Linked DNA regions of Homo sapiens: region 2 is linked to region 1. The links come from fine-mapping of genetic effects on gene expression. A gene starts in region 1. The other region holds a variant in brackets. All regions are shown on one strand. Distances are from middle to middle. Region 1 holds the start of CFAP210 (cilia and flagella associated protein 210). Region 2 overlaps CFAP210 (cilia and flagella associated protein 210).

What was found. PIP is the estimated chance that this variant, and not a neighbour inherited with it, causes the effect. A credible set is the group of variants that fine-mapping cannot tell apart.
Region 2: its variant is the best candidate, but not a certain one, in a credible set for the expression of CFAP210 in whole blood (INTERVAL, PIP 0.50).

What each region holds. Positions count from the first base shown.
Region 1 is chr2:169,692,518-169,696,917 of GRCh38, forward strand. It overlaps CFAP210 (cilia and flagella associated protein 210), which reads right to left and starts at 1,888. Exons shown (of 9, transcript NM_001085447.2): 1 at 1,744-1,888. The coding sequence starts at 1,810. PHOSPHO2-KLHL23 (PHOSPHO2-KLHL23 readthrough) reads left to right here and starts at 1,952. Exons shown (of 5, transcript NR_144936.2): 1 at 1,952-2,105; 2 at 2,698-2,730. It overlaps PHOSPHO2 (phosphatase, orphan 2), which reads left to right and starts at 1,952. Exons shown (of 4, transcript NM_001008489.4): 1 at 1,952-2,105; 2 at 2,698-2,730. RefSeq lists an enhancer at 1,671-1,850 and a silencer at 1,981-2,260.
Region 2 is chr2:169,669,854-169,674,253 of GRCh38, forward strand. The region is part of intron 4 of CFAP210 (cilia and flagella associated protein 210); the gene reads right to left. Among named protein-coding and RNA genes, the nearest start is that of CFAP210, 22 kb to the right of the region's middle. The variant G/A (reference allele first, on the strand shown) is at 1,918.

The sequences.
Region 1 (4,400 bases):
GGCCAACTTTCCCACTTTTATAATGAACCCATTCCCCAGATAATGGCATTAATCCCTTTACTCTGCCCTCATGGCCTATCACCTCTCATTAGTCCCTACCTTCCAACATTTTTACATTGGGGATTAAGTTCCCACACATGCCTCTGATAGCTGTGATATTTAAAATTGCCACTGAACATTTGACAAACATACTTGGTGAGTTTGAAGTCAGACTAAATAACAATAAGCCTCATGAGTGAGATTTTCCAAGGAACTATCAAACATGTCGAATAATAACAGTTGTCTGGCTTTGGAGTGGGTCAAATTCTGTTTTGTCCCCTCTACCAGTTGCTAAGTCACTATTTTTCACTGTGATTACTGTGGTTATCTAGGCTGACACGGGGCTGGGAGAAAAGTATAGGACTATGGCAAGTTAAAATGCCAAAAACCTTGCTGTTGTTACAAAAATCCAGCTGTTTTTCTTTAGTAAACACTCTACAAATTGTTGCAAGCCTTTGGTTAATTTCCAGAGTTCTGAAAAAGTCGATATTGATGATTTTTGCCACTGTTCTTGTTGATTTTATGGAGGAGAGGATTTCAGGCATAGATCCTATTTCACCATTCTGGCTGATGTCATCCCACTAAATCTTTATAAATTATTTATTTTACTAATAGCTGCACACATCTCTGAACCTCTCTCCAACTTAGCCTTCCCCTAAAAATGGAGATTAAAATTTAGCAGTGAGGCTCAGGTGGAAGCTTTTGAGCTAGTTGCCACAAAACATTATTTAACAACTATTAGGTAAATCTAAACCAGGTAGTGCAGAAATGCATATGCAGGAAAGTGAATGTGTGGGACTAATTGTGCTTTTCCAAAACTGGCCATGTTGGTACTGTTTCTTTCCTTTTACATGGCAAAAGTCCGCTGCTAACCTCATAAAACCTCCACTGCATAAATATCCACTAGTGAAGAATGACTGGCTGTCACTCTGCATCTGGTGCAGGGGGCACTATTGCTACAGAAGCTCGGGCAATGACATGAAGATACTTCAAATTGCCAAAGTTCTAGTTGTCACCATGACAACATTAATTGCTAATTTACAGACGTAAGAAACTGTTGTAGCTAGAATTGATAGAGTTCTTTAGAAGTCTATTTCTATTCCAAAATCAAATTGTTATAACAGGTCACCTGAATTACAGTACTTTATGTCACACGATTTTTTTTTAACTCTCTAAAAGCATTTGACTTAGAGAGAGACCTTATATTTACTTTAGAGAGGAGGAAATGGAGATATTTCCTTCAGAGACTTTTAGTAAAGACCAATCAGCAGGTTTGCAGAAGAGCCAAGCCTCTAAAGAGGTGACTTATATTTCCAAGAGATATTCCAATTCAATCAGTGAATAACAAACTTTAAGCGTGCGGGAAATTTAACAAAACCCAGACTCTCAGAGCTGCAACTGCGCAGTTTTAGGTCAGCTGGGGCTGGGGGTGGGGGTCTCTGATTTCCTATCTTTTCTCCACCCCTATTTCTGTAAACATTCTCCCACCCACTTCCACTCCCCGTTTCCCTCCTTCACCCATTCACCTGAGGGCAAGACGGCCTAACTTCACACAGAGCCCAAAGATGCTTATTGAGGATGCTTTCGACCTGGTGGAGTCCATTTCAAAAGGCAACTGAAGCCCTCATTCGGCATCCTCGCCTCTCACTCCATGCCGGGGGTCCAGAAACAATCCCTGTCCCTGGATAGGTCAGTTTAGCTCACCTGTACTTTCCTTCGCCCGTCCACAGCGCCGTCCAAACCGTACCAGCATCTCTGACGAGGTGTCCATGATGCTCCTAGATCTGGAAAAGTGACTGTGGCGCCAAGCGCCGCGGACGCCAGCCGGTGGAGTTGTTACTCGTACCACGCGGTTGCTTGGCAACGCCGCCGGAAGTGACGCCAGCCGTAGCCGAGGAACAAGGGAGGTGCTGCAGTTGGCGGTCGGGCTAGAGAAGAGAGGCGCCTGCGCTTGCGAGCTGGGCTTGTGAGTGGGGCTGCCGAGAGGGCAGGCGTGGGGCGAGGCCAAAGGACTGAACCCGCAGGAGCGTCACGGGCGCCGGGGCGGCTGCCGACGGCGGGACTGGGTCAGTGAGAAGCCCGTGGGCCCCCGCCCTGCCTGCTACTCCCATCCCCACCTGCGCGCTCCCCATGGGGGACGACCCCCGATTGGGTCCGATGCCTACCCTCGGGGTGGAGCCGGCAGGTGTGTGAGCGCGCGAGGCCTAGGCGTGGTGTGTGCGTCCGCAGATCTCCTCGCGGGTGGAGTGTGAGGAGCAAAGCCCTCCCTTAACTATAAAAACCCGCGGATTCGCTGACATAAACGCTGTTTTTTTAATCCTTTGGTTTCTGAGGCATGGTCAGGACTAGATGGGGCCAAGTTTTTTAAAAATAGGAATGTTAAAACGTAATGATATGCTTAGAATATTTACGTTAGGACCTTTGAGATATTTTAAATTTCTTGGTAAATACATGACCACAGAAATCTGTTAGGAGTAGCTGCGCGTTTGGTTTCAAAAGATGCTTTTCTAACACATTGATGTACAGATAACTTCATTACTAACAAGTTGGCTCTGACGTGTACACATAATGCACCAAATTGGAGTCTCTCAAAATGAAAGAACAAAAAGATTTTTAATAACGAATGTTCTAACACATAGTCGTGCTATTTTTCTTTAGGTTTTCTATCAGATGTTCCACGTAATAATGCTGGTAAGTATGGAATAATTAAGAAAATATTTGAAGACAGAAATTAGTTTGTGCACATACAGCGCTGGTAGGTTTTTGGAACTATACCTTAAAAAGTGTCAAGAACTGGGGGCCAGGCGCGGTGGCTCACGCCTGTAATCCCAGCACTTTGGGAGGCCGAGGCGGGCGGATCACGAGGTCAGGAGATCGAGACCATCCTGGCTAACACGGTGAAACCCTGTCTCTAGCAAAAATACAAAAAAATTAGCCAGGCGTGGTGGCGGGCGCCTGTAGTTCCAGGTACTCTGGAGGCTGAGGCAGGAGAATGGCGTGAACCTGGGAGGCGGAGCTTGCAGTGAGCCGACCATCGTGCCACTGCACTCCAGCCTGGGCGACAGAGCGAGACTCCGTCTCAAAAAAAAAAAAAGTTTCAAGAACTGGGAAGGAACAGAGATTTTTACCCTGTTTGCAGGCTAACTTAGCCTGGCAGTTTCATGGAAGACACAAGACTATTCATTTCAGGAATGAATTACTCCCAGCAGTAGCCAGTAAATCAGCAATTTCGCCTGAGTTCCCTAAAGCCCCAGTTCCCACAGGATAATGCAAAGTGGGCAAGAAGTCACCTAGATGTAGTGTGTGTCGAATTACAGGAAAGGAGCCCTGAGCTTAGGGAACCCAGATCTTTATCATTTGGACAAATAAGCATGTTTCTCAAGGCTGTCCAGTGTACAAACATCCTTGAGACAATAGTCTAGAGGAAAGGGCAGTCAGTAAGACATGCAGAACCACCAGAGACGCAGGGAAAATTGTCTCCCAACAACAATTTTCTGGAATTTTAACAAAATTGGTTACAAAAGTATTGAATCTCATGATTTGATGTCAGTTACTTGCCAATTTGACATGGTGGTCAGATATAATTTGACTTCAGACTCGAGATTCCAGCTCCAACCTGTGGATTGTCACAACCAAGTCAATCTAGAGTTATTTGTCCTATACCCACCACTCTTTTATTTCTTTGTTGTGAATTTAATAAGGTAGCATATGCACTCTGATCTGAAACAGAGTTTAAATTATTCTGAGAAGAAAAAAATTTTATTACAAAATTGATGTAGAAAAAGTGTGAACTACGGTTGAACCAACCATAACCATCCCACTGCACATGTAAACATTTTCTAAAACAAAAACAGGATTATACTGTACACACTATTTTGTGACTTGCTTATTTAATTTGAACTGAATATCTTGGCTTTTACTGGCTGGATATTCTGTTATTTGCTATCACATGCATATCTTACTTAATTATTTCCCAATTCTTGGATGTCTGTGTAGTTTTTAATTTTCATTATTGTGTAAAGTATGCAGGATATTGTTACACTATGGAAACATTGCAGACATACCAAATAGACATAGATTGTGCTTTTGAAGAGAACAGTTAACTTTTTGGAATTTTAACAAATTGGTTTCAAAACAGATTCACATTCTTAAAACTAAATCTTTGTTCATATTCTTAATTTTTGGAGACATTTTAATTTCTAGTACAGCACTAAATGTCTATTGACAACAGAATGTGGAACTCCTCTATTATTAAACAAGTACAAAGAAAAAATGGACTCTGAAAATCTCAATCAGCTTAACACTGATTTTATCCACTGGACAAAAACTTATTTTCACATAACATTTCTTATTTTCGACAC
Region 2 (4,400 bases), 23 kb before region 1:
TGAGACATTGAAATGGAGATACCATGGAAGCAGCTGGATATGTGAAGCTGGGGTTCAAAGGGATGGTCTAGACTAGAGTTATCAGATTTAGGATGGCACTTACATCTGTAAAATGGATGAGATCACTTAAGCCCTCTTCTCTCTTTCTACTCTTTCCCTAAATAATCTTTATCTAGGAAAAAGTGATGCAAACTATCCTATGACCATTTTTTCTTTTTTTGTGTGTGAAGCTGATGGGATTAACAGACAGTAATTAGTGAGTTTTTTCTTAAGCAAAGTCTATGTGTCTGTTCCTAGAGGAAGCCTTACCTATATATAGAAGAAAGAAGACCTATACAGTGTCTATAGCTACGGTGTTAAGTTTCTTTTTAATAATTATGTGTAAGATTCCTGGTCAAAATCCCTCTATTTTGGGATTTTGGTGTCACTGTGGTATCTTATTTGTCTTATCGCCGTCACACCCACTGGGCTATGAGTCACACAAAGACTCTTATACTAGTCAAAGCCCCACAGTAGCATAGGATAGATTGTTTAGAAAGCATGTGAAAATTTTCACTTTCAGGCACAGGGCCAGCAGCTGTGCAATATGTTTCAGTTTTATATTGCTGAATAACTAATTACTCTAAAACTTAATAGCTTAAAACAATGAACACTTATTATCTCATACCATTCCTGAGAGTCAGAAACCTGGGAGTGACTTAGTTGGATGGTTCTCAACTAATGTTGTAGTCAAGATGTCAGTTGAAGCAGTAGTCATCCAAGGGCTTAAATGAGCCTGGAGAATCCACTGTCACATATTTGGTGTCAGGATACCTCAGGTCCTTGCCACATGGACCTCTCCATTGATCTGCTTGAGTATCCTTACACCACAGCAGTTAGGTTCCCCAATGAGCAATCCATGGGAGACAGCAAGGAGGAAGCCACATTGCCTTTAGTATCCTAAGCTTAGATGTCACACACCATTATTTCTGACACATTCTATTTCTTGGAAATGAGTTACTATGTATAGCCACACTTAAGAGGGAGATAAATTGGGCTCCATCCTCTGAAGGAAGGAGTATCAAAGAACGTATGGAAATATTTTAAATCACCGCAAGGTAGCACTTGGTAATACAATTAATAGGGCATGCAAAAAGAGACTTGCCCCTTGGTAATCTGCAATTTCCATTTCTTTGTGATTAAAATAATTAAAATACGGTCTCTGCCCAAAGAAGACAGTCATTCCAAATTTTGGCAGGCCTTAAGGCACATGACCTACAAAAGACACCATGAGCCGATCCTAGCCTATCTCTCCAACCTTATCTTTCACAATGCCCCCTTTGTCTTTTATACTACAGCCATCTTGACTACTTGGAGTTCTCCAAATCCACCATATTCTATCCCACTCTGGGCCTTCACTTGTGCTTAAAATACCTCTACAGCCCACTTTTAGCATGGCTTATTACTATTCATTCTTTGAAATTAGGCGCAGGAACCAGTTTCTTCTGCAAAGCCTTCTCTAGACTGGGTCAGATACTCATTTTACATGCTTCCACACACCCTCTACACATATTTGCCAAAATATTTATCATTACATTCTAATTATTTGTTCCATTTCTGTACTCTCCACTCCCAGATTCTGAACTTCTTTTTGAGATGGAGTGTCGCTCTTGTTGCCCAGGCTGGAGTACAATGGCACGATCTTGGCTCACTTCAACCTTCGCCTCCCAGGTTCAAGCAATTCTCTTGCCTCAGCCTCCTGAGTAGCTAAGATTACAGGCATGTGCCACCATGCTTGGCTAATTTTGTATTTTTTTAGTAGAGACAGGGTTTCACCATGTTGGTCAAGCTGGTCTCAAACTCCTGACCTCAAGTGATCCACCCACCTCGGCCTACCAAAATGCTGGGATTGGGAGGCGTGAGCCACCGCGCCCAGCC[G/A]TGAACTTCTTAAGAAGACTACATCATATTCATCTTTGTATTCTCAATGACTAGAATAGTGCCTGGCAAAAGGAGGTTGTTCAATAAATGTTTGTATGAATGAATGAAGGAATATCCTAATGAATGAATAAATAGCCTATTTTGAAATTTTGCTCCTGAATAAACTCTTATTCAAGAAAAGGGAAAGTAACTCTCCTTTGCATCTCTTTTTTGCTACATGCTCCTCTTCCCAACTCAGGTTAATACCAGTGCTACTATTCCATTTCTATTGGTTTAAAGAGGTTTTTTATAGGTTCATCCCTATTCGTAACAGTATTTTAAAGTAACATGCATTCTGAATTCTATAAAACCCATACATGAATAAACATTAAACAGAATATAGCTTGGCGATAAGTTTGTAAACTCATACACTTAAACAAATATATAATAATAGATTTATAATTTCCTATGTTGTTTCCAACTACAGATTTGAATGTTTCTTATTAAATTTAAGCTGTAGGACTTTGGAAACAAATTGGCAACCCAGGTTCACATGTTGAACATCTCTATTAGTCAGGGGTTTTCCAGAGAAACAGAACCAAGAGGGTGTGTGTGTATGTGTGAGTTTATTTGGGAGAATTAGCTCACACTATTACAAGGCGAAGTCCCACAATAGTCTGTCTGCAAACTGAGGAAGACAGAAACCCGTAGTGTTCAGTCGGAGTCCAAAAGCCTCAAAACCAGGGAAGCTCACAGTGCAGCCTTCAGTCTGTGGCCAAAGGCCCAAGAGCCCCCAGCAAGCTGCTGGTGCAAGTCCCAGAGTCTAATGACGGAAGAACCTGGAATCTGATGTCCAAGGGCAGGAAAAGCAGAAGGAAGCATCTGGCACCAATAGATAAGGAAGCCAGAAGGCTCAGCAAGCAAGAGTAGCCTACCTTCTTCTACCTGCTTTGTTCTAGCTGTGCCGGCAGCCGACTGGATGGTGCCCACCCACCTTGAGGGTGGGTCTTCTTCTCCCAGACCACTGACTCAAATGTCTGTCTCCTCTGGTGACACCCTCACAGACACACCCAGAAACGACACTTTACCAGCCATCTAGGCATCCTTCAATCCCATCAAGTTGACATCTAATATTAACCATCACAACATCCTCCCTCTCCTAATTCCCCAAAATGCAACCAATATAAAGGAGAAATTCTATACCACTGGTCTTACCCACATAACTGAATTTTCAAGAGATTTCAAAAGAAAATAGAACAGTTGAGAGTACAGTGAGGATAGGTAACACTTGGTCACCATGCACAAGGACAAAGCCCACCATGAGAAGTAAGTAAAGGAATTTATGCTGACGTCAGAGCTTGATGAACATTTCCGAGACTGCACTGAAGATATGCCAAAGAAACAACGAAAATAAATCCTACACCAGCTTGAACCTCTAACCTACTGACACATACTACAAGGAAAAAACACGATGTGGCCCAAACACAGCCCAGATACAAAGGCTATAGGAGGATAGACAGCCTGTGAAGGTGTTAGCACTTGCCAGGTAGCTTGCTGGAAATCTGACTGCCACCTCTGAGCTGCAATATAACAAAAGAGATTTCTCAAACACAAGTGATTCACTGGTCAAAGACTTGCCTTCCTCTGCCAATGGCTTTGTCCCTAACTTGCACAAACCTTTAGATCTCTACACTGCCAAAGAAAAACATTACAATAAATCCAAAGGTTTTTCTTCCCTTGTTACTAAGGACTGAATTGAAAAATACACAATTTGGTAATATATATATATTCTGAGAACTGATGTCTGTGTCATTTAGACATAATGTGATTTTGATAAATTATATATGTGACATACAGGTATGTGAAAAAAGCATGTAATAAGACAATGCTGCTAATTCAAATTTCATTTTATAAAATGTGAGTATATATGTTCAGGAAAAAAGTCTGTGTCGCCAGATCAATGACTGCCAGAGGCTGGGAACAGGAGATAGAACTTAGAGCAAAGGGGCATGAGGGAAATTTTGGGAGTGATGGAAATGTTCCATATCTTGATTTGAGTGGTAGTTATGCAGCTATACTTTTTAAAAGGTGAATTTTACTGAATGCAAATTTTATTTCAATAAGGCTGATGCCTCCTTCATTAAAAAAAAACTCTGCATGGCTATATACCAAAACAGTAATAGTAACTTCCTTTGGTAGTTTAGATTTATTATTCAAAAAAGATTCACTCCCTTCCCCTTCCTGTCTCAATTTAATGGAAGTCTACTTCTCTGTTCCATTATTGTTGTTGGGGTTGGCCATGTGGTTGCTTTAGACTGATGGAAGGCCAAGTATACTTCCTTCTCCATTGACTTTGGGTTACGCTGTGTTTTTGCATGCTCAGGCTTGCTCTCTTGCATCTCTATCAATACCATGTGAAAAGTTTCCCCATGTGGCTGCTTCATCCTGAACCTCAGAATGTATACACATGGAGCGGATCAGAATACTCTCCACAACAATAAGCA